Homo sapiens: one gene and its partners. The protein of the gene in region 1 interacts with the protein of each later gene in a pairwise test. Each region holds a gene or a part of one and is shown in the gene's direction. Other genes may lie near its edges. The genes, in order: ITPKB, PPP3CA, IFT88 and TRIM54.

Region 1 (7,993 bases):
AGAACATGCCCCCAGCCAGCCCGAGGCCTTTGCTTTTCCCGAGTCTGATTTCTGACCCAGGATGGCATCCACTGGTGCACCAGAATGTGTCCTCTCAGGGGAGGCCCAGCCCTTCCTTCCAACCCAGACAGCAGCAGGACTTCGCAGGTGACCACATGGAGAATAATCCAAGTGGTGTCCACTCAGACCTGGCCAAAAAAGTACGGCCTGTGTGAAGAACACTGGCTGGGCATTTCTGGAAGTCGGCTGTCCCAAAGACACAGCCAGCCAAGCACAGGGCCAGGCTGCCCCAGAACCTGCCTGCTCCTGCTGGGGACAGGAGCCCCGCTTCCTGCCCCAGGGCTGCCCCCACCCAGCCGCTTGACTTCCGCAGCTTCTCTCTGATTGCACCCTAGTGCTCTCAAGAGAGATCTAGAGTGACCGTGGCTGGTACCCATGTAACCCATCTTGGCAGGCAGAGGGAAGAGGATGAGAGAGGAGTATGTGTGGAGGGGAAGAGGAAGGTCTCCCCAGAAGCAGGGTGCACCCAGCCCGATCTTTCCTGCACACAAATCCTAAGGACCCTTCTTGTTCCAAGGGCTATGCTAGATGCTTCCATTATTTATCCCATTGCGTTCTCACCGCCATTCTGGGAGATGGGTCATGTTCCAGTGTAAGCAGGAGGGTTCTGTCACCAGGAGGTTCAGTGACTCATCAGGGCCACCCAGCCAGGCAGCAGCTTGGTGCAGTTCTGCACCAGGCTTGCTTGACTGCAAATCAGGCCCCCAGCTGCAGCCCAGCCCTTCCCAAGGGGGCTGTGTGGGACCCAGCTTCCATGGCATTTCCCTGGGGTGCCAGGCTAGTTCCATTTGGGCCATGGACTGTGCCTTCCCCCAAATGCGTTCATCCAGAACCCTTGGCTGCAGGGCCTCTCCCAAGACTGGCTGCTCATGGTCACCTCTAGAATGTGGCCTTTCCATGACAGGGTGAGGAGGCTGGAGCCCAGGGTTACCTCACATGCTGAGTCCCAGGGCAAGAGAGTTTGAGACATGTCACAGAGAAAGGGAAGGGCCGGTCACCAAACAATGCTGGGCATGGCGGGGGCAGAAGGGTGGCACTAAGGAGAATGTGATGCAGTTGCTGGTGGCGTCTGCACGTCGGGGCTTCTTGGGACTCTGGCTCCCGCCGACATGTGCTCAGTGGCTCTGGGGCATGCTCTGAGATTTGTGACTTGTCCTGGAGAGTCAACACTGTCTTCCTGACATTGGGACCAGGGGCCTGGGGAGTGCAGGTGAGAGCCCGCCCCTAGCACCTAGGAGCTCTGGGTGGCTTTCGCCTGCCACCTGTTGGCTCCCTGGGCTGGCCTGTCTCAAAGGAGCACTTCCTCCACCTGATCTTGAGTCCCCTCCTCCCCCAGCGTCCTGTGAGTGGGCGAGCAGGTCTCTGCTTCCCTGCATGGCTTGGAGCTTCGACTTTGTCTCGGGCAGGCAGGGGAGTGTGGGGAGGGGCTGAGCCTCACCTTCCTGTGGGCATCCCGCCCCACCATCCAGCTGGCACCCCCTGTGGACATCTCCCCCCAGCCTCTTTCCTCTCCTGGGCAGTGAGTGACTGCCCGCTTTGAGCCACGGGGGCCCTTTTTGGAGAAAGGCCATGTGAAAAGGGATTTCACATTGAGGTCTGCTTCCTGTTTAAGGGGGTGCTGAGAGCTCTTTGCAGAAGTGCAGCCACCCACCATGCGGTCCCCTACAGCGCCCTCAGGAGTCCCTCCCACAGCCTGGCTGCCCCTTTTCTACACAGTACACACATGGATGCACACGCAGCCCCTGCCTCAATGCCCCCGTCACCACTGACCTGGCTCTGCATGTGAGGGGTGTGCTCTGTGCGTGTCCTGCATGGGTGCACCTGTGTGTGTGCAGTGGTGCACAGGAGTCCGCGTTTATGTGCATGTGTGTGCATGAGCACATGTGTGTGTATGTGCGCACATGGTTGTGTGTGCATGCAAGGGCCCAACCCAAAGCTACTGACTTCCCCCTCCAGCCCTCATCACCTCCTGGAAGGTCCTAACCAGCCAGGCCTAAGTTCACACCCAAAGGATTTGTTTTTTTCTTCCCTTTTCTTTCCGTGCAAATTTCAATTAATACAGTGGTTTCTAAAGCCTGTCATTTTTAAGAGGCTGTAGTTTTTGTTTAGTCTGTTCTGGGTCCCAAACCAGCAACTTGGAGAAGTTGGTGGGCAGTGTTGGAACAAGGCCTGGGAGACAGATGCAGGAAGAGTGGAGGGCCAGGTGGAGGGCAGGCGGGCGGGGCCTCTGTGGGCAGCTCCCGCCCACACAGGGCAAAGGGGAGAAAACTTCCCCATCCTGCAACTGACACTGCTGATTTCTGCCTCCTCAAGGGCTGTGGGCAGCCTCTGAGCCTGTTGTGTAGGGAGACTGGGGCTCTAAAAGGAGAGCAGAGGAGCGGGGGTGGGATGACTCACCCCACCTCTGCTCTGGAGAAGGTAGAAGCGCAGAGCTGTGTGCTGGGGGAGGTGGCGTGTCCCGGCAGCTCAGGGCCAGCGATTCAGCCCCCGGCTGCTCAAGTGCTCTGCTGTCCCTGCCCCTGTTACCTTCCCCAGTGTCTAGGTGGTCCCCGCCAGTTCAGCTGGAGCTGCTCGTGTGGAGGCCAGGGCCGTGAGGCAGTTGAGTTGGAAGCATTTTCTCAGGCTTTTTGGACTGGGGGCTCACCTATGAGGAGGCCTGGTGTCGATGGGGTGGGGTGCACCAGGCATGTCTCTGGGATGAGCAGAGGCTGAGGGAGCCCCCTGCCTTTCCCCCACAATACGGCCTTCTCCATCCACACTGGGACCCCTTCCAAGGCCACTTTCTGACCTGAACTTTGTGCTCCAGAAGATTTCACCTCTTTGGAAAGAGCCAGAGACACTTATGGGCAGGCTCAGCCTTCAGGCTGCCTGAGAGCAGCAGAGATGGGGACTTGAGGACAGACCACTTCTCCCACCAGGACAGGTTCTGGCTTTGGAAGCCCTCGCTTTATGGAAGGGCCGAGGCAGCCAAGGGGATCTAGTGGGGCCCTGAGTAGACCCTGCCCCCAGTCCCCTCTCTTAGCTCCACCGTAGCAGCAGGATCAGGACCAGCCACCCCCGACACCCCCTGCTGCCCTGCCTCCGTCTTCCTTCTTCTGCTGGTTCCTGTGGGGGTCTCCCGAGGAGGAGCTCCTTGGGCTTTGTGAGGCCAGCCGATGGGCTTGGAGTGAAAGTGAAGGCAGTCCGATTCAGTGAGGCTGCACCTTTTCTCCTGGATCAAGAGCCAACCCCAGGCTGGGTGGTGGTGCACACCTGTAATCCCAGCACTTTGGGAGGCCAAGGTGGGAGGATCACTTGAGGCTAGAAGTTTGAGACCAGCCGGGGCAACATAGCGAGACTCCCTTATCTACTAAAAAAATTGTCTAAAAAAAAAAGAAAAGAAAAATTAGAGCCAGCCCCAGCTGGAACAGAGTCTGCCGTCCCCTCGGAAAGACGTGCCTTGACTCAGGGCACTGAGCTGACTGCAGCTGTTGGGCAACACACGCCCCAAACCTTCATCCACCAGGCAGGAAAGGAGCTGCTGGTGAGCCCTGCCCCAGGCCTCGGCCCTCATGTCGCCTTCCCTCCCACGTAGGACCTACCTGGAGGAGGAGCTCACGAAGGCCCGGAAGAAGCCCAGCCTGCGGAAGGACATGTACCAGAAGATGATCGAGGTGGACCCCGAGGCCCCCACCGAGGAGGAAAAAGCACAGCGGGCTGTGACCAAGCCACGGTACATGCAGTGGCGGGAGACCATCAGCTCCACGGCCACCCTGGGGTTCAGGATCGAGGGAATCAAGGTGAGGCCGGCGAGTGAGGGCAGCCTCGGGCCCCACCCGTGCCCACCTCAGGGGGCTTGGCTTCTCTCAGCGCCCTTTGGAAGCTGTAAGCTTCTCCAGGCACAGGCTCAGAATGTGGGTGGCCCGCCCCAAGGCCAGACATTTGGAGACATCAGCCTATTCCTCAGGCGGGATGGCTGTGTAGGGGGCTCAGGCCTCAGAGCAGAGTGGCTTCTAGCCCTGCCCAGCTGTCAGCCCTCTGCCGAGGACTCTCCATTTAGCCCAGACGGTGCCTGGCACCGAAAGCCAGGCGAGAGGCACCTGCGGGATGCCTGTGGGGTAGCTGGTTCATTCTGCCATGGCTGCAAACTGGGACTGGCAGACAATTCGGGGAAGGGAGGAGCATGCTGACCGCCTTTGATGTTGGAGCCAGGGTCTCTGAGAAACTGCATTCTCTCTGCTTTGCTCTTCGATCTTTTTTTGGAAATTTTAAAATATTTATTGGAACAGAAATAGAAACATAAGCTCCAAAGAAACAACATGACAAACTTTATAAGTAAATGTAATTTTCCCCTAATTAATATATTTACTTTGTGTTTGTGGTTTACAAAATGATGGCTCTTTCCCTTCTATCCCTTTGTACCTATGTGTATCTGGCAGGAAAGTTCTTAGCTCTGGCTATGGGCACACAGAAGCTTCCTATACATGATTATGTTCAAATGTTGATTTACTTTCCCCAGAATAAATTGGGGAACTGGCACTGTCTGGATTGGTGACTGTCTGGATGATCTCCCTGTCCCTGGGCCCCTGTGTGCACCCTTGCTGTTAAATTTGCAAGAGCCGGGCTTTGGGGCGCCGGCCCCTCAGGGTCTCAGAAGCTGTCCCTCTTGAGCAGATGGCAGTCCCTGTGGGGTTGTCGGGTCTCCCATTCTCTGTCCAGTCATGGTCTGCATCATCTCCAGTGTCCAGCCTGGAGTCAGGGTTGGGCAGCCGATGGTCCTGATGGGAGGGTCCCCTGAGCCTCCTTTCAGATGGCATTTAGACGTAGCTTCCGCAGCTGTCAATGGCTCGCTGCCCACGGTGGCATGTGGGGAAGTTTTTACCTTCCCCCGGGACAGCTGCTTTGCGAGCTCTGGGCTGAGAAAGGCATTTGCCCCCTTCTTTGTCTTTTGAAACCAGCCCTTCCCTCTTTTTTGCATCCAGCTCTGAGACTGGATGCAAATTCCGTACCCATCCGCCTTCTCCTTAACGCTCGCTTTCCTTTCTTTATTAGAAACAATCCACTTTCCCTTCACCTCTCCCTCTCGAGCAGGATGTGCTCCTGGTCTCTGTCTATTGTCCAGCCGTCAGAACAGCCGACAGCCTGTCTTCCCACTCAGAGAGAAGCCAGCTGTCTTCACCATCACCTGCCTGCCCCGCCCTTAGCTAAGAGGCTCTGCCTGGGGTGCACTGCCCACAGCCCCCGGCTCTCGGCCCCTCCTGCACCCAGGGCTGCTCCCTCAGCCCCAGGTCCTGCCAGTCCTGTCGAAGGCAGCCACAGTGAGGACACAGCTGAAGTACTCTCCAGCCTGAGGGCAGACACGGCCCACTGTTGGGACTCCTGGTGGAGCATTCCCTTTGTCCCTAAAGAACAGATTTCCTCATAGGTCAGCAAAGCCCCACATGAGGGCCCAGGACAGCCTGAACAGAGATAGTGCTGGGGCCAAGAAGATGGGAGTGGGGTGGGCGAGGGAGCAGAGATGGGCAGGGCTGTATTGGATCCTGGCTTTCAGAAAACGTGAAAGAAGAGATGGTAGATTATAAAGGAAGTCAAGCTGAGCTCAGGGCGGGAGCAAGTCTCTCCTCCCTGTGCTGAGGGGAGGTGCCTCTGGCGGGCAGGGACCTCCGGGCACCGGTTCCAGGGCCCGGGCCCCAGAGTGGGAAGTCGAGGCCGACCCTCTCTCTTGGCCCTGCTGTTGCACCCAGGACAGGCCAGCCCCGGGTCATGCTCCTCCATCCTCAGCCTGGATGCCCTTCACACCTCCGGGCCTTTCCTACCACTGTTCACTCGCCTGGGGATGTCAGCGCCACCCTCTGCGTTCTCCTGTGTCTGGGCACAGGGCAGGCTCCCCTCTGCTGTGCACGCCACCTCCATGCGCCATACGTGGACACCTGGGTGCCTCCACTGGCCCTGCCCCAGGTTCAGATGGGGCTCGCCTGCTCTGTGGTGTTGGGTGGGTGAGAACAGTTTCTGCCCGAGGGTCCCTGCTGACCCCCTCCTGGGTGGGGTGTTCTCTTTCTCAGAAAGAAGACGGCACCGTGAACCGGGACTTCAAGAAGACCAAAACGAGGGAGCAGGTCACCGAGGCCTTCAGAGAGTTCACTAAAGGAAACCATAACATCCTGGTGAGTCTGGCACCTCCAGAGAGGGTCTCTCCAGCCAGCCAGGGAGGGACAACTGTGTCTACTCTGGAGGTGCCCATGGGGAGGACAAGGCACCCCCAGGGACAGCACACCCCAGCCCGAGTTCGTAGGGCTCTGTAGAGAGGCCACTGGCAGAGACTTTTGTGGCTCTCTCACTCTGCCCTTTCAAAAGTCAAAGGCACGCCGGGCACAGTGGCTCACGCCTGTAATCCCAGCACTTTGGGAAGCTGGGGCAGGTGGATCACCTGAGGTCAGAAGTTTGAGACCAGCCTGGCCAACATGGTGAAACTCCATCTTTACTAAAAACACAAAAATTAGCCGGACATGGTGGCGCATGCCTGTAATTCCAGCTACTTGGGATGCTGAGACAGGAGAGTCACTTGAACCTGGGAGGCGGAGGTTGCAGTGAGCTGAGATTTTGCCATTGCACTTCAGCCTGGGCAACAAGAATGAAACTCTGTCTGGGAAAAAAAAAAAAAAAAAAGTCAAGGGCACTGAAGTTAGTACCCAGGAAGGTTTGTATCCATCCTGGCCCCAGGCTTCTGCTTGGAAAGTAAAGAAGAAGGCGATGTGCTTGTCCCTGGCGTGCGGCGGGTAGGCGGGGAAGCTTGGCGGACACTCACTGACTCTCCCTTAGCCATCGGCCCCATAGCTCCAGAGAGCATTTCCCATGCCCTGAGAGAGAGAACAGTGCCCGCCGTCTGCCAGGTGTCATGCCAAGCGTGCAGCAAATCTTCACAGCAGACCTGCTGTGGGTAGACCTGCTTGTCCCCATCTTGTGTGCCCGAGGTCACGCTGCTCCCTGCCAGCAAGAGCTGGCGAGCTGTCTCCGAGTCCAGGAGTGTGGGTTGTACAAGTTCATGACAAAGTTCTGTCTTGTGTGTTGCTGCTGCAGCGGCTCGCAGACTGGATAGATGCTCTGCCCACAGGGACCAGAGCACTGACCCTTCCAGCTGAGTCAGGGAATATTGTGCCACTGTGCCCCAAGTGCACGGCTCCCTGGGACAGTCAGAGATCCAGGCACATCTGGGACACGGGCCCTGGAGCCCCTGTGAATGGCACCTTCTGAACAGTCCACAGCAGCTGCAGAGCAAGTGGGGGCGGACCAGGCAGCCGTTTCTCCAAGGAGACTCAGTACCGGCTGGAACTGGGAAATCTTCCTTTTCCAGCTGGGGAGGCTTCCCTTGGCTCCTGGCAAGCTCTGAGGCTGCAGGCAGGGGGAATGTGCCTGACTCTTTCGTAGCCCAAGTCCTCCAATTCCTGAGTCCCTTGCAGGGGAGGATCTCAGCCCCTAAGCAGTGGCCACCATGGAACATGCCTCCTATGCCTGGGGTTTGTTCCTGGTGCTGAAGACTCCAGGGGGCTGCTCGGCTGGCCCGGCCAGCTGTCACTCTTTTCCAGCAGGCATTGAGGAACTCTGTGTACCTGTGTATGACGAGCTTCCCAAGGCAGCCCGGGGGTGAGACCCACAGAGCTGGCTTCTGGGGAAGATGGGGCACCCCCCAAGGCCAGCAAAGCTTGACATGGGTTTATAGGGCTCCATGGAGAGGGCACTGGGAGAGATATTTGTGGTTCTCTCTCTTACCCTGTCCTTTCAAAAGTCAAAGGTACTGACATTTATGCTGAGAAAGACGCCACAGCAGCCCTGCTCGCAGGAAGCTGCCTCTAGATGTCCGGCGTTTAGGGTAAAGCACATTCACGGGAGGGACCACTAGAGGCCGCATGGGTGTTCTGACACTGCCCTTCCCCACGCGGCGCTTAAAAATCTGGTC
Region 2 (7,993 bases), on another chromosome or scaffold:
TGTAGATGGACCTTGGCTTTTTACCAAAGTAATGTTTCCTATTTGATTGTCAATATCTTCTCTACTAAGTTCCAGCCTTTTGGGGGACTTTTGGTCATGGTAATACATTTTATTCATGTCTTTATGATATGTGAGCAATGAAATGCATAAGTGTTAAGGAAAAATATTTATTTTTATATTATTTTTATTTTTCTCAGTGTGTGCTGTATTTGTGGGCCTTGAAAATTCTCTACCCCAAAACACTGTTTTTACTTCGTGGAAATCATGAATGTAGACATCTAACAGAGTATTTCACATTTAAACAAGAATGTAAGTATACTTCAACCTCCTTCCTTTAACACTATATGTGCTAAAAAGTAATTTTAATCAATAATAAGATACATACAATATGATCTATTGCCTAAAGTCAAAGACTTAAAGTGACACTCTTTCATATTATCCTATATTTCTTTCTAAGCATGGACATTTATGAGAATTCAGAATTTCTTTTTAAATTAGAACTTCTTTATAAAGTGATTGAAGAATTTGAATTAAGATTTGATGTAATTTATCCTAAGAAACAAGTGATTTAGGGATGCTACTGTTTGGAACAATAATTCTACTCATTAATCTCACATTACTCAAAAAACGCAAATGGAGGGCAAATTCAACCCTATGCCTCTGTTTTGGACCCAATAAATGAATACTAGCTTCTAGTGAATCTTATAAAACTGAAGATGATGTCATTCTTTAGACATAGACACTAGGAGTGTGGAGTGCTTTTTTCAATTTCTTTTTCCTCCTTACAATTTTTCTTATTATTCACTGAATCTTACAAAGGTATAAAACCTTACATTTTTGTTTTATGTATAAATACAGTTAAATGGAAGAGCTGGGAATCTCTCTATACATATCAATATTTTTCTCTTTCATTTAGTCCTATATTCAATGGAGCATAAAGACTTCTCCTCTTAAAACATTAGATATAAGTCATGGGAAAAGCAATGTGCAGTAAGATAGAAACAGCTTTAGGAAATGTCTTGCCATCTGCTTTTCTACAAAATCGTTAAGGAATATCAAGCAGCTTTATGGCTGTTTTTCTATTGGTCTTCCAGTTGTTCATGTACATTTTTTTGGTGAGACGTCTGCAGATAAATAGCCAGAATGTATATAAAAATTCTCTTGCTATACAAAACGTTATGAAAATTATAAAGTATGAATTAATAAATGACAAAAACAGGAAATACTAGATATAAAAGATTAATATGTTACTTTCAGAAAATCTTAATTATGTTTTGGAATTTTGTAGTATGTGCCTTTATGTTAATAATAGGGTCCTAGCAAGAAAACTTCTCAAAAAACCAAAACTATTTCAGTGAAATGATCCTGCCTATAAATCATAAGTATTCTTTTAATCACTTCTAAAAGGTAAAATAAAGTATTCAGAACGCGTATATGATGCCTGTATGGATGCCTTTGACTGCCTTCCCCTGGCTGCCCTGATGAACCAACAGTTCCTGTGTGTGCATGGTGGTTTGTCTCCAGAGATTAACACTTTAGATGATATCAGAAAAGTAAGTTTTGTTATTTTCCAAGTCTAATCATTTTGTGCGCTACAGTAATAAATAGAAGACATTAATTACCCTGCCTTTATCACTGACTTTATTCTTTTGAGTTCAAATAATTTAAAGTGGTCATGAATCGCTCCTTTGTGTTAAATTTTTATCTAGAAAGAGAGATATGTTTATACTTGGAAGAATTTTTATCTCTACAACCTCAGGGTTGGTCTTACCATCTGACATGTGTCTTTGGAAATATAAAATATTTGACCTCTAAAAAAAATATGCCTTATCATTTCCATTTGGCTTTTTTCAAACAATCCGTTGTATATTCATGATGTGTTATGCTAGAAATGTTGCTTTGCCCTTGGGAAAATATCATAACATAACCATTAAACTGTGCTCATTTTATGGTTTTTTAAAAATCTATTTGTTACAACTTGAGACTTTTAAGTAGCAATCTAACAAGGACAGTGATAATATTTTATTAATTTTACTGAGTGGCTGAGTGAAAAACTGGACTTTTTAAGAAGTATTTGTAAGAAGTTTTTAAGAAATACTCCAGTTTAGCATTGGCTATTAACAGTTGTTTAAACCAGCAAAAAGATGAGTTACATTGAATGTGGAAGTGGATTGTGTCTCTTTCTTGAGTAAATCTAGTAACATGGGATAGTTTTATGTAGTACAATAGATAGACAATCTTTTATTTCTTTGGTATGTTTCTAACTCTGATTGCAATGATGTAAAAGATAGAGAGTAATAAAAAATCGCAGTGTATTTTTCTTGGTGCCAAAATCGGACCAAAGGGAGAAAGTGATGTAAATGTTTTCTTAGGTCATTTTAAAATAATATTACTTGGAATTATTTTAAAGTATGATAATTTCTTCACATTGATATTTATAACATATGTTATTGAAAATTTGTGCCCACCATTAAGCTTTCTATCTAGGAAATCTAAGCCAAATTTTTTCTGGAGGAATTATAAACAGTTGAAAACTGTATTTATCTTCTTTCCTCTACTTTTAGAGACCTAAGAAAATACGCTTGTACTTATCCCATAGAACAGAGGGGTGAAAATAATTCTAACCTTTTATTATTATTCTCACCAGTAATTTTAGCAAGAATAAATTGGTCACATTGTTCTAAATTACTGTATTTGAACTATAAAGATTGGAATTTTGCTGAGATTTCTTCTAAAGATACATACTACTCAGTATATATTTAAGCCTAATGTATGATAGGTAGACTTTGGCTTCAAATAAGTGATGCACTAATCTCAAGGTGTACAGAATTTATTTCTTAAGTTATAGGTTCACTTAAGAATAACCATGGGCACAGTTCAAATTCTAGATCTTGCTTATCATTAGGGGCATTCATACAAAGACTCCCTTGGTGTCACTTGTTTGATTGATTGCCATTTAATTGTTTTTTTCCATTTCTTCTGAGTTTGGAAACTTGATTGCTAAGTCTGAGAAGTCTATATGATGAACATTTGCAAGTTAATTCTATCAGCTGCCATAAGTTATTAAATTAGTAAACAGTGTTTTCCCATTGTGTTCAGTGGAGAAGGAAAGCAAATATTTTATCTATTCATGTATCCATGTATCATATTAACCTGATAACCACTTATTGAAATAGGTTTGGAAAATGAAAAGTCAAATTACAAATAAGTATAGTAGTTTCTGTTAGCAAATGATGGGCATGAAAGACATGCATTTATGTTTTATTCTCTTGCCTTGATCAAATTTCATGGCCTTGGATGGAAGATGAGAAACTTACTAAGTGTCCTCCTTCAAAGGGGGATTAGTGAAAACTTCCCTCAAAATAGTGTTTTAATTATTTGAACAAAACTGATACACTGAATAGAGTTCTATACTGTAGAGAATAAATAGAAAGGATAAGGCTATTGTACTATTTTGTTTAAGACGCAATCACCAGCAAAAAGGTTGTAAACCTCTACTACAAAATGAATAACCATTTTCATATAGCTCTCATTTGTAGTGTTTCTTTAATACTTTTGTTAATGAAACTCATGGTTTTGAGGAAATACTTTAGTAAATTATGAATGTATTTGCATACCATAAGTCTCTACTACCATGAACTCAATATTCTTTTAAAGTTCATTAGTTTTTAGAGAAAAATTATTTTCAGGTAAAATAAAACATTCAAGTTCTTCCTATCATTGAGGTTCAAGTGTTCAAGTATAAAAATAATGTGTTTACTTTCCTATTGGAAAGAAAATGCATGCTTTTTATTTTAAAATTCAAGCGAAAGCACAATAAATAAACCTTGTTTCCTGCTCTGTGTCTTTGTGTCCATTTTTGCAAGACACTATTTCACACTTCTATAGAGCATAGAGCATTGGTCTTTGCTCTATATTTAAAGTACAGTAGAGATGTGATGCTGGTTCAGTATAAAATTGTTTCTTTCTGGGCCAAGCATGGTGCCTCACGCCTGTAATCCCAGCACTTTGGGAGGCCGAGGCAAGTGGATCATGAGGTCAGGAGTTCGAGACCGGCTTGACCAACATGTTGAAACCCCATCTCTACTGAAAATACAAAAATTAGCCAGGCATGGTGGCGCGCGCCTGTAATCCCAGCTACTCAGGAGTCTGAGGCAGGAGAATTTCTTGAACCTGGGAGGTGGAGGTTGCTGTGAGCCGAGATCGTGCCACTGCACTCCAGCCTGAGTGACACAGGGAGACTCCGTCTCAAAAACAGAAATGTTTCTTTCTGCATGAATATAACTAGCTCATTCTGTAATCTGATGGATTTTTTTTAAGTAAATAAACTTCACATCGTAAATTAAGTAGATTTTTTAAAATATCACCTAATATCCCTAGGACTTACTTCCCAGGATATTTTAGATATTATATTCAATTTTCATACATATCATTAAGCTCTGCACATGGCCAGAAAATGATTTTTAAGTTTTTATCTTGCCATATATCAAGTTTTTTTGTATTTGTTTATTTTTACTGTCAATTATATTAACTTTTAGAATGCACTGTATACTTTTTCCAGAATAAATGTTATATTCTGGTAGCTTTGCAGACCTTTAGTTGGGGATTCATATTAATCAGAAACTTTCCCCTCCTCTACTGTCCTACCCTTAATAAGTTATTGTTTTTCAGAAAGAAGTTCTGTATTTTTAGGGACAAGTATTATTTTTCTTGAATGTATTGTTCCAAGAGCATAAATTATTTAAATCTCTTAAACAAGTTTAAGTTTGCAATGAATATTTTGTGGCTAACATAATGGTTGAAATGTAGTCTTGTTTTATTGAAGTTTTTCATTGGGTATTGAAAACATAAAATATTGCCTCATTCTCTATAGATACTAATAAAAAGTAGTGTGCAACAAAACCATTACTTACATCTTGTATGTCCCAGAAAAAAAAAATAGACAATTTGATTAGTTGTAAGCAAAATATGTTCACTTGTCTTCATTGGATTTTTAAAAATATCAATATGAAGAATATCAATTCTTAATAGATTTTCAAAGCTATTGCATGCTTTTATTCAAGAGCCTTTATAATATCTGCTGATTCACCAAAGATCCTTTAATTGCAGTTAAATCAGGATAAACTAAAGTGTTTAAAATTGATCGTGATATGTTATTTCCAGTGATGATATTTCTAATATGCCTTCTAAATGCACCTTTTAAAATTGAAATGTGACTTCACTAAACATTTATAGCTGGAAAATTGATTTCATATGAAGGCTTCAGGTAAAATTATAAAGCTTAGAACTGTGAACTGAAGAATGACCCGCTAAAGTTGAGTTTATTTTACTGCTTATCATTACTCATATTTGTACCCACTAAGATCAACTACAGGAGGCTTGTAGTTTATCATTAGAAACCTAGATAGCCCATAATGAAATAGTATCCAAAATATCATATAGCAAGTGGCTACTTTTAAAGTAAAAGCCATCTTTTCTCAAAATCATGTTCTTAAATATAAAAAAATAACATAAGCATGAAAACTAGGAGTTGTTTTCCATCCAAACTTCTAAATCACAGTTTAATAGAGGCAGTAATAGGAATTTTCCCAAAGAAAGTAATTCTCAATAAATGAAACAGGGGTAGAGTCATAATAACTGGTCATGAAAAAAACATTTGGATAGATAAAGTAAGTAAGGAGAGAAGGATAAAATGTAGAATAGGAGAAATGAGAAACTGCGAAATCTAGAGATAATAGAGGCAAGAGGAAGGTAAAGGGTTAGATGAAGATAGATACTAAATGATCTCATCAGAAGGAAGCTGGAAAGAAAATTGGAGAGAGATGAAGGATAGGAAAACGAGTAGGAAGAAGGACAGGAAGAGAGAGAGAGGTAGAGGACATTTCACCCTGAGCTGTAGCTGGGGAGAAGAGGATGGGTTCTGCACAGTGCTTGTTTCTTGTATTGTCAGAATTCTAAGTTTCCAAAGATTAGTATTTTGCTCTCTGTCTTCTATTTTTCTTAGTTAGACCGATTCAAAGAACCACCTGCATATGGACCTATGTGTGATATCCTGTGGTCAGACCCCCTGGAAGATTTTGGAAATGAGAAGACTCAGGAACATTTCACTCACAACACAGTCAGGGGGTGTTCATACTTCTACAGGTAAGAATAGAGAACTTGCTCTCTGGAACACGTTTGCATCATAATGCTAGGATTTATCAGTCCATGTGTTTGATTTATTTATAATGTTTGTATTACTTCTTTAATATAAATGAAAGGCTCACTAGCATTTATAAAATGAAAATATAAATAAATGAATAAGTGAGTAAATAAATGTGAAATAGATATGTATACATATACAGGTGTACCTTGGGGATGTTAAGGGTTTGATTCTAGACCACCACAATAAAGCAAATATTGCAATAAAGCAAGTCATTATTTTTTTGGTTTCCCAGTGCATATAGAAGTTATGTTTACACTATACTGTAGTCTATTAAGTGTACAATAGCATTGTATCTAAAAAAAAAAAAACAAATGTACATACCTTAATCAGAAAATACTTCATTGCTAAACAATGCTCATGATCATCTGAGCCTTCAGCTAGTCATAATCTTTTTGCTGGTGGAGGATCTTGCCTCGATGTTGATGGTTACTGACTAATCAGGGTGGTAGTTTCTTTCTCAAAAGAAGACATTTATGTGGCCAAAAAACAATGAAAAAATGCTCATCATCACTGGTCATTAGAGAAATGCAAATCAAAACCACAATAAGATACCATCTCATGCCAGTTAGAATGGCGATCATTAAAAAGTCAGGAAATGGATGCTGGAGAGGATGTGGAGAAATAGGAACGCTTTTACGCTGTTGGTGGGAGTGTAAATTAGTTCAACCATTGTGGAAGACAGTGTGGCGATTGCTCAAGGATCTAGAACCAGAAATACCATTTGACCCAGCAATCCCATTACTGGGTATATACCCAAAGGATTATATATCATTCTACTATAAAGACACATGTATATGCATGTTTATTGCAGCACTATTTACAATAGCAAAGACTTGGAACCAACCCAAATGCTCATCAATGATAGACTGGAGAAAGAAAATGTGGTACATATACACCATGGAATACTATGCAGCCATAAAAAAGGATGTGTTCATGTTCTTTGCAGGGACATGGATGAAGCTGGAATCCATAAGAACTATTATTTTTGCCCCAATGCAACAAAGTATCACAAGAACAGAAAACCAAACACCTCATGTTCTCACTCATAAGTGGGAGTTGAACAAAGAGAACATATGGGCACAGGGAAGGGGAACATCACACACCAGGGCCTGTCAGGGGGTGGGGGGCTAGGGGAAGGATATTATTAGTATAAATATCTAATGTAGATGACGGGTTGATGGGTGCAACAAACCGCCAGGGCACATGTATACCTATGTAACAAACCTGCACATTCTGCACATGTACTCCAGAACTTAAAAAAAACTCCAGTATTAAAAAAAAAAAAACTGTACCAAAAAAATCCAACACCAGCCTTGTTTTAATTCAATTATGTTATCACATTTAAAAGTTTTACCAGTTTCTGTAACTCAGATCAGAAAAACAACTTTACATTGGTTAAATCAATCATTTAATTCCTTCTTACATTTGTTTATCAGGCTTCCTGGATAAATTAAAATAAGCAGCTTTACAGTATATAGGAACCATAGTATATTTATTTTTAGGACTTTGACAAGCCAAGTTGAAAATATTTTTATAATAATTTTTACATTTTACAAATCGCTAGAGATTTACCCATTACATGACATTTTATAACACTTCAGAAAGGAATCTGCAACACGATTAGGTTTCTGCATGACCTCACTGTCTTCCTATCGTGTCACCTCAGTTTTATCCTCCCAGATGTGATCTTCCTCAGTTTCACTAAAGTCTCTTATCATTATACATACAGCTTATGTGAAAATTGCGAGAGTGAAAGAGAAAAGAGGTTATGAAGAAGATGAGAATTTT
Region 3 (7,993 bases), on another chromosome or scaffold:
GACTCCGTCCCAAAAAAAAAAAAAATTTTTTTAAACTTTTGTGCTTCAGAGGATAGTACAAAGAATGTAAAATGATGTACAGAATGGGAGAAAGTATTTGTAAATCATTTATATAATGTTTAGTATCAGGAATATATACAGGATCCTTATAATTCATGTGATAACCTGATTTTTGGGAATGAGCTGGCCGGGCGCGGTGGTTCACGCCTGTAATCCCAGCACTCTGGGAGGCCGAGGTGGGCGGATCACAAGGTCAGGAGATCGAGACCATACCGGCTAATACGGTGAAACCCCATCTCTACTAAAAATAAAAATAAAAATAAAAATAAAAAAATTAGCCGGGCTTGGTGGCGGGTGCCTGTAGTCCCAGCTACTCGAGAGGCTGAGGCAGGAGAATGGCGTGAAACTGGGAGGCGGAGCTTGCAGTGAGCCGCGCCACTGCCCTCTAGCCTAGGCGACAGAGCAAGATTCCGTCTCAAAAAAAAAAAAAAATGAGCAAAAGATCTGAACAGACATTTCTCCAAAGAGATATAGAAATGGATAATAAGCAGATGAAAAGATACTCAACATCATTAGTCATCAGGGGAATGCAAGTCAATACTACAATGAGATACCATTTCATACTCACTAGAATTGCAATAATCAAAAACAGGAACAGTAACAGATGTTGGCTAGGACATGGATAAATTGGAAACTTCATGCATTGCAGGTGGGATGTAAAATAGTGCAGCCACTTTGGAAAACAGTCTAGCTGTTCCTCCAAAAGTTAAACATAGAGTTACTATATGATCCAGCAATTCCTTTACTAGATATATTCCCAATAGAATTGGACCTATATATGCATGCTAAAACTTGTACACACACATTCATAGTGATGTTATTCATAAAAGTCAAAAAGTGGAAACAATTCAAATGTCCATTAACTAATGAATGGATAAGCAAAATGTTGCAGATGTATTTAGCCATAAAAAGTAATGAAATATTGATACATACTACTGCGTGGATGAACCTTGGAAGCATTATGCTAAGTGAAAGAGACCAGACACAAAAGGCTACATATTGTGTAATTTCCTTAATATGAAATGTCCAGAATTGGCAAATCCATAGAGACAGAAAATGGTTGCCAGGGACTGGGGAAAGGGAAGGGAGGCATGGAGAGCTGCTAACAGGCCCCATATTTCTTTATGGGATGATGAAAGTGTTCTGGAATTACATACTGGGGATGGTTGCACAACCTTGTGAATATACTAAAAACCACTGCACCTTGAAAAGTTAAATTGTATGGTATATGAATTATAGTTCAAAAACTAATAATTTTGTTAGTATTTAAAATATATAAATAATTTTTAAAGGTTATGAGAAGCCACATATATGTGGTATTATGCTGAGAAAAAGATTAAGCTGAAAATTTATTTTTTATTTATTTATTTTTATTATTTATTTATTTTTTGAGACAGAGTCTGGCTCTGTCGCCTAGGCAGGGGTGTGGTGGCACAATCTCGGCCCACTGCAACCTCCGCCTCCCAGGTTCAGGCCATTCTCCTGCCTCAGCCTCCTGAGTACCTGGGATTACAGGTGCCTGCTATCATGCCCGGCTAATTTTTTTGTATTTTTAGTAGAGACGGGGTTTCACCATATTAGCCAGGATGGTCTCGATCTCCTGACCTCGTGATCTGCCTGCCTCGGCCTCCCAAAGTGCTGGGATTATAGGCGTGAGCCACTGCGCCCAGCCTAAGCTGAAAATTTCTTAGGAATTTGCTGGTGCACTTAAAATGTACAGGCCTTAAGAAAATATGTATTTGCTTTAAAGAAAATACATTTCTTGAATACTAGCAATACTACATTTCTTGGGTAATTAGCCTTCCTCCACCTCCCACCCCTCAAATTGCCTAAAATATTGACTTGATTTGAATGATACTTCCAGGAATCCTTGCCAGATTCTTTAGTAATTATTAGATTTACAGTATATCTATATGGTAATTTCATTTCTCCCATGCTTCTGTCCAAGTCAAAATGTAGAGATGAATCTTGAAATTTTACATTTTTATTTGGGAAGAAAGAATTGCAGTTTGAGGACCAGGTGGTCTTTGGTATGTCCAAAGAACAAAGAGAAGGTTGGAGGTTTATCAAAAGGAGAAGTGTCATGTAGTGCTCTTTGAGAAAGTTCACTGGAACTAGTGAGGTTCTGGGAAGCTGGCAAGTTCTAATTGGTGGGTAGCTGTGGTGGGCACAATTAGTCCTATATTTGCAGCAAGTTATCTCAGCAGCTATAAATAAAATTGGCCTCAGGTTTTAGCAGCCAGTTTCAGCAGCCAGACTTGCAGAGAATTCCATTCTTCAAGCAATGTTATGTGTCCTGAGTGCCTCCCCACCAACACACCCCAGCTTCTTGACTCTGTTTTAGTTGGGTATGACAAGAATGACTCAAATTTGTATGATCAGCTTTCACTCTTCTGTTTCATTTTGCTTTGATATCTTTTTTTCTGTCTTGCATTTTTTCCCTCAACATTTCATTATGAAAATTTTCAAACATGCAGCAAGGTTTAAAGAATTTTATGTTGAATGTTACTCCTGCTACCTAGATTCCACCATTAACCTTTTTCTATAGCTGCTTTATCATGTACTTATCCATTTACCTATCTCTCAATCCATCTATCAAGCCATCTTTTTTTTTAGAGACAGAGTCTCACTCTGTCACCCAGGTTGGAGTGCAGTGGCATGATCTCAGCTCACTGCAACCTCTGCCTCCTGGGTTCAAGCGATTCTCGTGCCTCAGCCTCCCAAATAGCTGGAATTACAGATGTGCACCACCATGCCCGGCTAGTTTTTGTATTTTTAGTAGCGATGGGGTTTCACCATCTTGACCAAGCTGGTCTCAAACTCCTGACCTCAAGTAATCCACCCGTCTTGGCCCTCCAAAGTCCTGAAATTACAGGCATGAGCTACGGCGCCCGGCCTAAGCTGTCTTATTTTATGTATTTTAAGCTAAATTACAGCTATTACATGTTCCCTGAAATAACAGCATGCGTATCAATTATATAGTTCAATATTTGTTTATAGTTCTTACTTTTGAGGTAAAATTTACAAAGCAGAAATCGCAGTGTATATTTGCTGAGTTTTCACAAATGCATACACTTGTGCGACTCAAACCCCTGCCAAGATACAGAACATTTATCATCACCCCAGAAAATTCTCTCATGTCCCTTTCCATTCAATCCCTAACCCCCATCCCCAAGAAGCGATCTCAGTTCTGATGGTTTTCTACCGCAAATTAGCTTTGCCTGTTTGAGAACTTCATATAAAGGAAACAGTGCATAATGTACACTCTATGTAAGGCTTCTTTCACTCAGCATAATTGGGATTCTTTTTTATTGCTGGATAGTACTTCATTGCGTAAGTATGCCACATTTTGCTTGTCCATTTTACTGATGGGTATCTGGTTTGTTTCTGATTTTTCAGTATTATGAATAAAGCTATGACAAAGAAAAGAAAGGTTTAATTTGAAGAATGAGACTCTCCTCTAAATTACCAGGTCCAGAGAGGCGTGGGAGTGAAACAGCAGTCACATCTCCTTTACCTTCTTGGGCTAAGTAATCATGTCTTGAAACTTGCTTGCTATTGCCATAAGTAGCTATAAATTAATCTAACAATGGCACTGTCTGGATACTATAACCCATACAATGTAGCCAATCACTAATCAACGTTATTTTTTTAAACCAGTGAGAATTTCTGACAGACAGCTTTGTATCAGCCCACTCCCTGCCCCACTTTTTTGCCTTTAAAGATCTGCTTGAAACAAAGGCCAAATGGAGCGCCTGTCCAAGGTTACATGAAGTCTGAGTGTTCTGGGCAGGCAGCCGTCCTCATTTTGGCTCAAGTAAACTTTTTAGAATTGTATTTTATGCCTCAATTCCTTTCTTTAGGTCGACAGCTACTATGAACATTCTTATACAAATCTTTTTGTAGACATATGTTTTCATTCCTCTTGAGTAAATATTTTTGAGTGGAATTGCTGGGTGATAAAAGGTACTTTTAATAAAAGTTAATTTTATGAAACTGCAAGACTTTTCTCCCAAAGTGTATCATTTTACACTCCCATCAGCAACGTGTGAATACTCTGGTTGCTCCACATTTTTGCTGACATTATGTGTTGTTGGTCTTTTTAATTTTACACATTCTGATGGGTATGTGGTGGCTTCTGCCTTGCATTTTAATTGACTGTTGCATACCTTTCTTCTGCACTTGATACTAAGCTTCCATGAAAATCAGGACAATCAATTGTACCCCCTCTAGTGCCTGTCACTGTTCTTTCAGTGTCGTAGTTGTGAAATAAATGTGAAATGAGGACAATAACTTAATGTTTTGACATCTAGTTTTGGGAATTTGATGTGAAAAAAATTGAAGCCATGAAAATATATATAGATAAATTTGACCACAAATGTCATTAAATAGTTATACTTTATTGGAATTAAGAATTATTTCTGGCCTGGCGTGGTGGCTCATGCTGGTAATCCCAGCATTTTGGGAGGCCAAAGTGAGAGGATCACTTGAGCTCAAGAAATTGAGTCCAGCCTGGGCAACATAGGGAGATCCCATCTTTACAAAAAATTTCAAACTTAGTTGGGTGTGGTGGCACAAGCCTATAGTACCAGGGAGGCTGAGGTGGGAGGATCACTTGTGCCAGAGAGATCAAGGCTATAGTGAGCCGTGATTGTGCTACTGCATTCCAGCCTGGGCAACAGAGCAAGACATATCTCAAAAAATATATATATATATTTCTTATACCAAGAACATATTTACACTGCCAGTTTTTCCTAGGTACAAATGATGCAAAATGTGCACCTGGCTCCAGAGACAGATGAAGATGATCTTTATTCCGGCTATAATGACTACAATCCAATCTATGATATCGAGGTAACAAAAGCTAGTTGTTTTTTACATTGGTCTTGGTTAACCAGCTGGTTTATGAAGACTGTGGATTTGAGAGTTCTACTTTATTATGCTTTAGATTAAATAAGCTGATTCAAAAACCTAGAAAAGTGCTATTACAGAAGACTCTACTGACTTCCACCAAAAATAATAATTGCAGCAGAAGGAAAGATCATGAGACAGGTTACAAAAATGAATTAAGGTGAATTATATATACTTGTATTCTTCAGCACTAGCTATCCAAATGTGTAAAAGACTTAGATCACCTGAAAGTATTTAAAATTAGGGTTTTAAGAAAAATTTTAAAGTTGAAATGTCTTGTTTTTTGGTTTTAATTTTTGTGAGTACATAGTAGGTGCATATATTTATGGGGAATATGGGATATTTTGATACAGGCATACAATGTGTAATAATCACATAAGGGTAAATAGGGTTTCTGTTACATCAAGCATTTATCCTTTGTGTTCCAAACAATCCGATTATATTCTTTTAGTTATTTTTAAATGTACAATTAAATTATTGACTATAGTCACCCCATTTTGCTATCAAATACTAGATCTTACGCTTTCTTTTTGTTTTTTTTTTTGTACCTATTAACCATTCTCACCCCCTCCCCTGCCACTACCCTTCCCAGCCTCTGGTAATCATCCTTCTATTCTTTATCTCCTTGAGTTCAGTTGTTTTAATTTTTAGATCCCAGAAATAAGTGAAAACATGCGATGTTTGTCTTTCTGTGCCTGGCTTATTTCACTTAATAGAATGGCCTCCAGTTCCATCCACATTATTGCAAATGACAGGATCTCATTCTTTTTTATGGCTAGTTTTCCATTGTATATATGTACATTTTCTTTATCCATTTGTCTGTTGACAGACACTTAGGTTGCTTCCAAATCTTGGCTATTGTGAATACTGCTGCAGCAAACATGGGAGTGCAGATATCTTTTTGATATACTGTGATAGAGTTTGTATATTTATCCCCACGCACATCTCATGTTGAATTGTAATACCCAGCATTGGAGGTGAGACCTGGTGGGAGGCGATAGGATCATGAGAGTGGATTTCTCATGAATGGTTTAGCATGATCTTCTTGGTGCCATCCTCACCCCATGTGATGTGACTGCTCCCATTTTGCCTTCTGTCATGAGTGAAAGCTCCCTGAGGCCTCCCCAGAAACTGAGCAGATACTGATATCATGCTTGTACAGCCTGCAGAACGATGAGCCAATCAAACCTCTTTTCTTTATAAATTACCCAATCTCAAGCATTCTCTGGTGCAAAAGTAACTGCAGTTTTTGCCATTTTAATTGCAAAACTGCAATTACTTTGGCGCCAACCTAATAGCAATGCAAGAACGGCCTGGTACATACTGATTTCTTTTCGTTTGAGTATATTCCTAGCAGTGGGATTGTTGGATCATATGATAGATCTATTTTTAGTTTTTTGAGGAACCTCTAAACTGTTCTCCATAGTAGTTGTACTAATTTACATTCTCACTAACAGTATATGAGGGTTCCCTTTTCTCCACATTCTCACCACCATTTGTTATTACCTGTCTTTTGGATAAAAGCCATTTTAACTGGAATGAGATGACATCTCGTTGTAGTTTTGATTTCCATTTCTCTGATGGTCAATAATGTTGAGCACTTTTTCATATACATGCTTGCCATTTGTATGTCTTCTTTTTAGAAATATCTATTCAGATCTTTTGCCCATTTTTAAATCAGATTATTAGATTTTTTCCTACAGAGTTGTTTGAGTTCCTTACATATTCTGGTTATTAATCCCTTGTCAGAGGGATAGTTTATAAATATTTTCTCCCATTCTGTGGGTTGTCTCTTCACTTCATTGTTTCCTTTGTCGTGCAGAAGCTTTTTAACTTGATGTGATCTCATTTGTCCATTTTTGCTTTGATTGCCTGTGCTTGTGGGGTATTACTCAATAAATCTTTGCCCAGTCCAGTGTCCTGGAGAGTTTCCCTAGTGTTTTCTTTTAGTAGTTTCATAGTTTGAGGTCTTAGATTTCTAAGTCCTTCATCCATTTTTATTTGATTTTTGCATATGGTGAGAGATAAGGGTCTAGTTTCATTCTTCTGCATGTGGATATTCAATTTTCTCAGCACCATTTATTGAAGAGAATGTCTTTTCCCTAATGTATGTTTCTGGCACCTTTGTCAAAAATGAGTTCACTGTAGATGTCTAGATTTGTTTCTGGGTTCTCTATTCTGTTCCATTAGTCTGTCTGTTTTTATGCCAGTATCATGCTGTTTTGGTTACTATAGCTCTATAGTGTAATTTGAAGTCAGGTAATGTAATTCTTCAGTTTTGTTCTTTTTGCTCAGGACAGCTTTGGCTATTCTGGGTCTTTTGTAGTTCTATATAGACTTTAGGATGTTTTCTTCTGTTTCTGTGAATAATGACATTGGTATTTTGATAGGTGTTGCACCGAATCTGTAGATTACTTTGGGTAGTATGGACATTTTAACAATATTGGTTTTTCCAATCTATGAACATGAAACATCTTTCCATTTTCTTATGTCCTCTTCAGTTTCTTGCACCAATGTTTTATAGGTTTCATTGTAGATATTTTCACTTCTTTGGTTAAGTTAATTTCTAGATATTTAATTTTATTCGTAGATATTCTAAATGGGATTACTTTCGTGATTTATTTTCCAGATTGTTCACTTTTGACATATAGAAATGCTACTGATTTTTGTAGGTTGATTTTGTATCCTGCAACCTTACTGAATTTATCAGTTCTAATAGTTTTTTGGTGGAGTCTTTATGTTTTTCCAAATATAAGATCATATCATCTATAAACTAGGGTAATTTGACTTTTTCCTTTCTGGTTTGGATGCCCTTTATTTCTTTCTCTTGCCTGATTGCACTAGCTAGGATTTCCAGTACTATGTTGAATAACAGTGGTGACAGTGGTCATCCTTGGCATGTTCCAGATCTTAAAGGAAAGGCTTTCAGTTTTTTTTCATTCAGTATATTAGTTGTGAGTCTGTTACATGACTTTTTTCACGTTGAGGTATGTTTCTTCTATACACAGTTTTTTTTTAGGGT
Region 4 (7,993 bases), on another chromosome or scaffold:
CCAAAAGGGAGAGATTGAAACGGTCAACCTGCCTGTTCTGTCTAGAGACCATAGGACTGGATCCGGAGAGGGACTTGCCTCAGGCCTCCCAGAGAGGGCAGTCTCTGATTCCCTAGCCAGTACTTCACTCCTACCCTCTCCTCCTGGGAGAGGCTGGCAGTCCACCAGCAAGATCCTCGCTAACCCTCCAAGACTTCCTGTCCTGTGGGACTTCCCTGCCCCCTTGTAATACAGACTGTTCTCGGATCCAGGCCTCCTCTATCTCTTAGCTCCTTCTGTTCCCCAAATTCAGAGCTCTGTGGAAGTACTCACCAGTTCAGCCACAGCACTAGCTGCAGGGGCGGAGAAGGTGGTGGCAGTTGGTGGAGGCTGAAGAGAAGGTATTCCTAGGACCCTTCATGCTTAAGGTCCACCTCCCCCTGCCCACTCCTCTCTAGGCCGCTGCACTCCAAGGCTGAGCAGCACCTCATGTGCGAGGAGCATGAAGAAGAGAAGATCAATATTTACTGCCTGAGCTGTGAGGTGCCCACCTGCTCTCTCTGCAAGGTCTTCGGTGCCCACAAGGACTGTGAGGTGGCCCCACTGCCCACCATTTACAAACGCCAGAAGGTATCAAACAGGGGAGGGAGTAGATATGTGAGAGATGGGGGCTTAGGACAGGGTCTCAGTGTCAGCCTCTTACTCCACTTATCTTTTGTTTACTTATTTCTTTATTTATTTAGAAACAGGATCTCACTCTGTTGCCCAGGCTGGAGTGCAGTGGCACAAACACAACTTACTGCAGCCTTGATCTCCCGAGCTCAAGTGATCCTCCCATCTTAGCCTCGCAGAACACTAAGATTATAGATGTGAGCCACCGCACTCAGCCCTATCTATCTATCTATCTATCTATCTATCTATCTATCTATCATATTTTGAGATGGAGTCTCGCTCTGTCGCCCAGGCTGGAGTGCAGTGGTGCAGTCTTGGCTCACAGCAACCTCAGCCTCCCGGGTTCAAGCTGTTCTTATGCCTCAGCCTTCCAAGTACCTGGGATTACAGGCATGTGCCACCACACCCAGCTTTTTTGTTTTTTGGTTTTTTTTTGACTCCTGGCCTCATGTGATCCGTCCACCTTGGCCTCCCAGAGTGCTGGAATTACAGGTGTGAGCCACTGCGCCCAGCTCCATTTATTTATTTTTTAAGAGATGTGGGGATCTCTGTCGCGCAGGCTGGAATGCACTGGTATGATTGTGATTCACTGCAGCAGCCTTGAACTCCTGGGCTCAAGTGATCCCTACCACCTCAATCTCCCAAGTAGCTGGAACTACAGGCATGTGCCACCATGACCAGCTAATTATTTTATTTTATTTATTTATTTATTTGTTTATTTATTTATTTTGAGATGGAGTTTTGCTCTTGTTGCCCAGGCTGGAGTGCAATGGCACGATCTCGGCTCACTGTAACCTCTGCCTCGCAGGTTCAAGCAATTCTCCTGCCTCAGCCTCCAGAGTAGCTGGGATTATAGGCGCCTACCACCATGTCCAGCTAATTTTTTGTATTTTTAGTAGAGACGGGGCTTCACCATGTTGGCCAGGCTGGTCTGGAACTCCTGACCTCAGGTGATCCACCCACCTTGGCCTCCCAAATGCTGGGATTACAGGCGTGAGCCCCTGCGCCCGAACCTAATTTTTTATTTTTACATAGAGACAGGGTCTCAGGCAGGGCACAGTGACTCACACTTGTAATCCTTTGGGAGGATACTACTAATAATAATATTTATTAGTAGTAGTAGTACTAATAATAATATTTATTAGTAGTAGTAGTACTAATAATACTTTAGAAGAGCGAGGCAGGGGGATTGTTTGAGTCCAGGAATTTGAGACCAGCCTGAGCTGTGTAACATAGTGAGACCCTTGTCTCTACAAAAAATTAGCTGGGCATGGTGGCATGCCTGTAGTCCCAGCTACTCGGGAGGCTGAGGTGGGAGGATCACTTGAGCCCGGGAGGTTGAGGCTGCAGTGAGCCATGATTGCACCACGGCACTCCAGCCTGGGTGATAGAGTGAGACCTTGTCTCAAAAACAAACATACAATATTAAAAAGAGACAAGATCTCACTGTGTTGCCCAGGCTTGTTTTGAATTCCTGGGCTCAAGCCATCCTCCTGCCTCTGTTAGAGGAAAGAGGTCTTGACACAGACCCCAAGACAGGGTTATTGGATCTCGCGCAAGAAAGAATTCAGGGCTAGTCCATAGAGTAAAGTGAAAGCAAGTTTATTAGGAAAGTAAAGGAATAAGACAATGGCCACTCCATAGACAGAGCAGCCCCTAGGGCTGCTGGTTGCCCTCTTTTTTTTTTTTTTTTTTTTTTAGATGGAGTTTCGCTCTTGTCGCCCAGGCTGGAATGCAATGGCGCGATCTCAGCTCACTACAACCTCCGCCTCCCAGATTCAAGCGATTCTCCTGCCACAGCCTCCCAAGTATCTGGGATTACAGGCATCCGCCACCATGACTGGCTAATTTTTGTATTTTTAATAGAGACAGGGTTTCACCATGTTGGCCAGGCTGGTCTCAAACTCCTGAACTCAGGTGATCCACTCTCCTTGGCCTCCCAAAGTGCTGGGATTATAGGTGTGAGCTACCGGGTCCAGCCTGGTTGCCCATTTTTGTGGTTATTTCTTGATGATATGCTAAACAAGAGGTAGATTATTCATGCCTTCCCTTTTTAGAACATATACGGTCACTTGCTGACATTGCCATGGCATTAGTAAACTGTCATGGAGCTAATGGGAGTGTAGCAGTGAGGACCACCAGAGGTCGCTCTCATTGGCGTCTTGGTTTTGGTGGGTTTTGGCCGGCTTCCTTACTGCAACCTGTTTTATCAGCAAGGTCTGTATGACCTGTATCTTGTGCCGACCTCCTATCTCATCCTATGACTTAGAATGCCTTAACCATCTGGGAATGCAGCCCAGTAGGTCTCAGCCTCATTTTACCCAGCCCCTATTCAAGATGGAGTTGCTCTGGTTCAAACGCCCCTGACACCTCAGCCTCCCAAAGCGTTACTCCACTTAGTTTTAAAGTCAAGCAGGCCGGGCGGTGGCTCACACCTGCAATCATAGCACTTTAAGAGGCCGAGGCGGGCGGATCACCTGCGATCAGGAGTTCGAGACCAGCCTGACCAATATAATGAAACCCTGTCTCTACTAAAAATACAAAAATTAGCCAGGTGTGGTGGCATGTGCCTGTAATCCCAGCTACTTGGGAGGCTGAGACAGGAGAATCGCTTGAACCCGGGAGGCGGAGGTTGCAGTGAGCTGAGATTGCGCTATTGCATTCCAGCCTGGGCAACAAGAGCAAAACTCCATCCAAAAATAAATAAATAGGCCAGGCGCGGTGGCTCACGCCTGTAATCCCAGTACTTTGGGAGGCCAAAGTGGGTGGATCACGAGGTCAGGAGATCGGGACCATCCTGGCTAACACGGTGAAACCCCATTTCTACTAAAAATACAAAAAACTTAGCCGGGCGTGGTGGCAGGCGCCTGTAGTCCCAGCTACTCGGGAGGCTGAGGCAGAATTGTTTACCTGGGAGGCAGAGCTTGCAGTGAGCCAAGATCGGGCCGCTGCACTCCAGCCTGGGCGACAGAGCGAGACTCCGTCTAAAAATAATAATAATAATAATACCTAAAATAAAATAAGTAAATAAAAATAAAATCAAGCAGATTAAGCCAGGCGTGGTGGCTCATGCCTGTAATCCCAGCACTTTGGGAGGCCAAGGTGAACGGATCACTTAAGGTCAGGAGTTCCAAACCAGCCTGGCCAACATGGTGAAACCCTTTCTCTACTAAAAATACAAAATTAGCTGGGCATGGTGGCAGTCGCCTGTAATCCCAGCTACTCGGGAGGCTGAGGCAGGAGAATCACTTGAACTCCAGAGGCGGAGGTTACAGTGAGCTGAGATTGCGCCATTGCACTCCAGCCTGGGCAAAAAGAGTGAAACTCTGTCTCGAAAATAAAATAAAAGTCAAGCAGATTGGAGTCAAAGTCCTAGCTCTGTGCTTGACTTGGTGTGTCACCTAGGTATGTTACTGGACCTTTGTGGCCCTCACTTTCCTCATGTGTAAAATTAGGGTGAAAATGCCTACTTGTGAAAGTAGCTATAAGGATAAAATTCGATAATGGATGAAAGCAGAGACTTCAGTATGGTGGGTGAGATACTTGCAGGGTCCTCTCTATCACACAACTAGATTCTGTGTAAAACAGAATTTTCAAATTATATTGCTTGGTACATAGAAGCAAAGGAAATCAGTGGGGGTGGGGAGGGGCGAAGAGAAAAGGCGGAGCTGAAAGCAGAACCCTGAGTGGCAAGCACAGAAAAGGCAGCATTTCGCAGAGGACCAGTGCTGGCAATGTCACTGAGCTAGAGAGACCAGACTATTCCTCCAAACCCCTAAAAGGAGGGGTACCTGCAGCTAAGATTCCAGAGACCCGGCTGGGCGCAGTGGCTCACGCCTGTAATCTCAACACTTTGGGAGGCCGAGGCGGGCGGATCACTAGGTCAGGAGTTTGAGACCTGGCCAACATGGTGAAATCCCGTCTCTACTAAAGATACAAAAAATTAGCCGGGCGTGGTTGCAGGCCCTGTAATCCCAGCTACTCGGGAAGCTGAGGCAGGAGAATCGCTTGAACCCAGGAGGCGGAGGTTGCAGTGAGCTGAGATCACGTCATTGCACTCCAGCCTGGGCAACAGGGAGAGACTCCGTCTAAAAAAAAAAAAAAGTTTCCGGAGACCGTAGGTTAAACTAGGATCCTAGGAGCTAAAGCAGTAAATTGCGCCACCTGGCTTTCAACAGAGGCAAATGCAAATACTGCCTAGAGGAAAATATGCACAATTTAGGCCCGTAGGTATTCCCTAGATTAATTAATATCAATAAAATATTAGATCACAATTGAAGGTGCACAGAGAAACGTAATCCATGAGTGAAGTCAGCAGAAACAAAAAATACAGATTTAGGACCCCCCACAAAAGCAACTGAGATATTGGAATTATTAAATAATTGGAAGTCACTATAAATCAAATGCTTTTTAAAAAAAGATGAAAAATTTTAAAAACCAAACAATAATAGAATATCAAAAACCAACCATGTAGCTGGGTGTGGTGGCTCACGCCGGTAATCCCGACACTTTGGGAGGCTGAGGTGGGAGGATCACTTGAGTCCAGGAGTTGGAGACCAACCTGGGGAAATGTTGAAACCCCGTCTACAAAAAAATATAAAAAATTAGCCGGACGTGGTGTCATGCGCCTGTAGTCCCAGCTACCTGGGAGGCTGAGGTGGGAGGATCACCTGAGCCTGGAAGGTCGAGGCTGCAGTGAACTGAGATCGAGCCACTGCACTCCAGCCTTGGTGACAGAGTGAGACCTTGTCTCAAATATATATATATAGATAGATAGATAGATAGATAGATATAGATATACAGATATATATATATATATAGATAGATAGATATAAAACATTCAACAGATGGCTGGGCATGGTGGCTGGAACCTGTAAACCCAGTGACTAGGGAGGCTGAGGCAGGAGGACAAGGCCTGGTGTTCGAGACCAGCCTGGGTGACAGAGCAAGACTCCGTCTCAAAAAAAATTTAAAAAAAAATCAACGAATGAATTGAATGATAGATTTGTCTGAAAACAGAACTAGTGACCAGTATGAGAGGACTGAAAGAAAAACAGAACGTGCAGTTCTGGGAGATGATGAGAAGGCTGAGAGTGAGAAGGTCTAACAGGTCTAATCAGATTCCCAGAATGAGAGGATAAAGAGAATAGAGAAGAGGCAATATTATGCCAATGGATAATCTTGAAGACTTTCTCAGAATCGATGCAAGAAATGAATCTACAGATAAAGTATCTAGCCCAGTGTCTGGTATCTGGTGGATGTTTGGAGACTGTCTGTTCCTTCCCCACTTAGTGGTGGAGGGCTTCTCTCCACCTCCTTCCAGAATCACTAGAATGTGCTTCCGTACCTCTTGATGGTTCAAGCCTTCTAGATTGCTGTAGATGCCCTTATGGGGGGTGAGGTGGAAGGGCCAGCCCTCTCCTAGGCAACCCTGGCTGGGGTGAGGGGTGTAGCTCTAGGCCAGGTCCCAGCTCTGAGTGCTGACCTGTGTGTGTATCAGAGTGAGCTCAGCGATGGCATCGCGATGCTGGTGGCAGGCAATGACCGCGTGCAAGCAGTGATCACACAGATGGAGGAGGTGTGCCAGACTATCGAGGTGAGCCTGGGCTGGAGGGAGGGAGGAACAGCAACTGGCTAGCCTGCGGACCCCGGGCTCCCAAGAGAACTGCTCCTCTCTGACCTCTCGCCAAACTGGTCTGAAAGTTTCTGGGGTCCTGGGAGTGGTGGGAGGTGCTTTTGCCAGGCTGCTGGGTGTGCATTCCAGCTTTGCCGCAAAACTTTAATCCAGTTATTTAACTTCTCTGTGCTTTGGTTTTGTTTAACCTCATAAAACAGTGATGATGATAATGATACACCAGCTACCTCATGGGTTCTTTTTGAGAATTAAATGGAATAATGCAAATAAAAACCAGGGCTAGGGATATAGACAGCAATCAGTGAAGCTACTTTAAAGCATTGTGTTTTTATTATGGAAAAGATCTGGGCTGGGTTCTGGCTCAGCCACTAACTCACAGTGTCACTACGGATGGGTCACTTTCTGTGTTGGTTCTCTGTGAGTACCCTGTGCTTTCCCAGCCACCGGGTCTCAGCCACGCCTTCCCTCATCCTTGCTCCCCATCTTTTAGGACAATAGCCGGAGGCAGAAGCAGTTGTTAAACCAGAGGTTTGAGAGCCTGTGCGCAGTGCTGGAGGAGCGCAAGGGTGAGCTGCTGCAGGCGCTGGCCCGGGAGCAAGAGGAGAAGCTGCAGCGCGTCCGCGGCCTCATCCGTCAGTATGGCGACCACCTGGAGGCCTCCTCTAAGCTGGTGGAGTCTGCCATCCAGTCCATGGAAGAGCCACAAATGGCGCTGTATCTCCAGGTGGGCTCTAGGGGAGGGTGGCAGCGCTGCACAGTGGCTGGAGTCAGGGCCTTGGTACCTGGAGTCCCGGGTTCAAGTCTTGTCTCTTGCACCTGCTTGCCCCTACGACCTTGGGCAAGTCACCCCCTCTGAGTTCGTTTTCTGCTTAACGAATTGGGACGTGCCTTCCCACCTACCCCGCAGGACTGTGGTGAGATTCAGAAATGGGACTTTGCCCAGGTTGGCCCAGTGCTTACTCTCACCCTCCTTTTCTTCCCTGCAGCAGGCCAAGGAGCTGATCAATAAGTGAGTAGGCATAGCGGGAAGGGAAAGGAGGGGGCTGCACTGCTCCACTGGCTGGGGTGGGGCTTGAGAGTGCTGGGGCATTGCCAGCTGAGTCCGTGTGGCCACTGCAGGGTCGGGGCCATGTCGAAGGTGGAGCTGGCAGGGCGGCCGGAGCCAGGCTATGAGAGCATGGAGCAATTCACCGTAAGGGTGGAGCACGTGGCCGAAATGCTGCGGACCATCGACTTCCAGCCAGGTGAAGGAGGTGGCCGAGGGCCGCTGAGACGGGTTCGGACCCTCTGTGTGGGGGGTGCGGCGGGCACGATGGCCGTAAAGGCAGGGACTCCACCTCACCAGGCCTTCCTTGGGCTCAGGCGCTTCCGGGGAGGAAGAGGAGGTGGCCCCAGACGGAGAGGAGGGCAGCGCGGGGCCGGAGGAAGAGCGGCCGGATGGGCCTTAAGGTGAGAGCCGCCCGATGGGCCTTAAGGTGAGAGCGGCCTGAGGGGCTTGGGGTGGGGCCTGGCTGGTGTGCTCGCGTCCCCTCCCCCAGTGATTGCCCTCCCTGCGGGTAGCGTGGAGCCCCCACTCCTCGGTGCAACCCAACCCCGGAGCCACAAAGGCGCGCCCCCTAGGGCGGAAAAGTACACTTTCCTCCTCACCCGCTGTTCCTCTGGGGTGCTGGGAGGGCAGGCAAGGCAGGCTGAGTAGAGGAGAAACCC

The links.
Region 2: the proteins of ITPKB (region 1) and PPP3CA interact in binary tests that used the Homo sapiens proteins (3 or more experiments, as listed by UniProt).
Region 3: the proteins of ITPKB (region 1) and IFT88 interact in binary tests that used the Homo sapiens proteins (3 or more experiments, as listed by UniProt).
Region 4: the proteins of ITPKB (region 1) and TRIM54 interact in binary tests that used the Homo sapiens proteins (3 or more experiments, as listed by UniProt).

What each region holds. Positions count from the first base shown.
Region 1 is NC_000001.11:226,637,767-226,645,759, reverse strand, and holds part of ITPKB (inositol-trisphosphate 3-kinase B), read left to right. Parts: intron 1-3,634; coding exon 3,635-3,839; intron 3,840-6,101; coding exon 6,102-6,203; intron 6,204-7,993. UniProt on the Homo sapiens protein: Catalyzes the phosphorylation of 1D-myo-inositol 1,4,5-trisphosphate (InsP3) into 1D-myo-inositol 1,3,4,5-tetrakisphosphate and participates to the regulation of calcium homeostasis.
Region 2 is NC_000004.12:101,091,927-101,099,919, reverse strand, and holds part of PPP3CA (protein phosphatase 3 catalytic subunit alpha), read left to right. Parts: intron 1-197; coding exon 198-309; intron 310-1,407; coding exon 1,408-1,553; intron 1,554-6,004; coding exon 6,005-6,144; intron 6,145-7,993. UniProt on the Homo sapiens protein: Calcium-dependent, calmodulin-stimulated protein phosphatase which plays an essential role in the transduction of intracellular Ca(2+)-mediated signals. Many of the substrates contain a PxIxIT motif and/or a LxVP motif.
Region 3 is NC_000013.11:20,569,562-20,577,554, forward strand, and holds part of IFT88 (intraflagellar transport protein 88 homolog), read left to right. Parts: intron 1-3,459; exon of another isoform or gene 3,460-3,590; intron 3,591-4,808; exon of another isoform or gene 4,809-4,818; coding exon of another isoform or gene 4,819-4,824; coding exon 4,825-4,914; intron 4,915-7,993. UniProt on the Homo sapiens protein: Positively regulates primary cilium biogenesis. Also involved in autophagy since it is required for trafficking of ATG16L and the expansion of the autophagic compartment.
Region 4 is NC_000002.12:27,298,808-27,306,800, forward strand, and holds part of TRIM54 (tripartite motif-containing protein 54), read left to right. Parts: intron 1-437; coding exon 438-609; intron 610-722; coding exon of another isoform or gene 723-848; intron 849-6,151; coding exon 6,152-6,247; intron 6,248-6,776; coding exon 6,777-7,010; intron 7,011-7,272; coding exon 7,273-7,295; intron 7,296-7,405; coding exon 7,406-7,530; intron 7,531-7,648; coding exon 7,649-7,734; 3' UTR 7,735-7,735; exon of another isoform or gene 7,736-7,761; intron 7,762-7,993. UniProt on the Homo sapiens protein: May bind and stabilize microtubules during myotubes formation.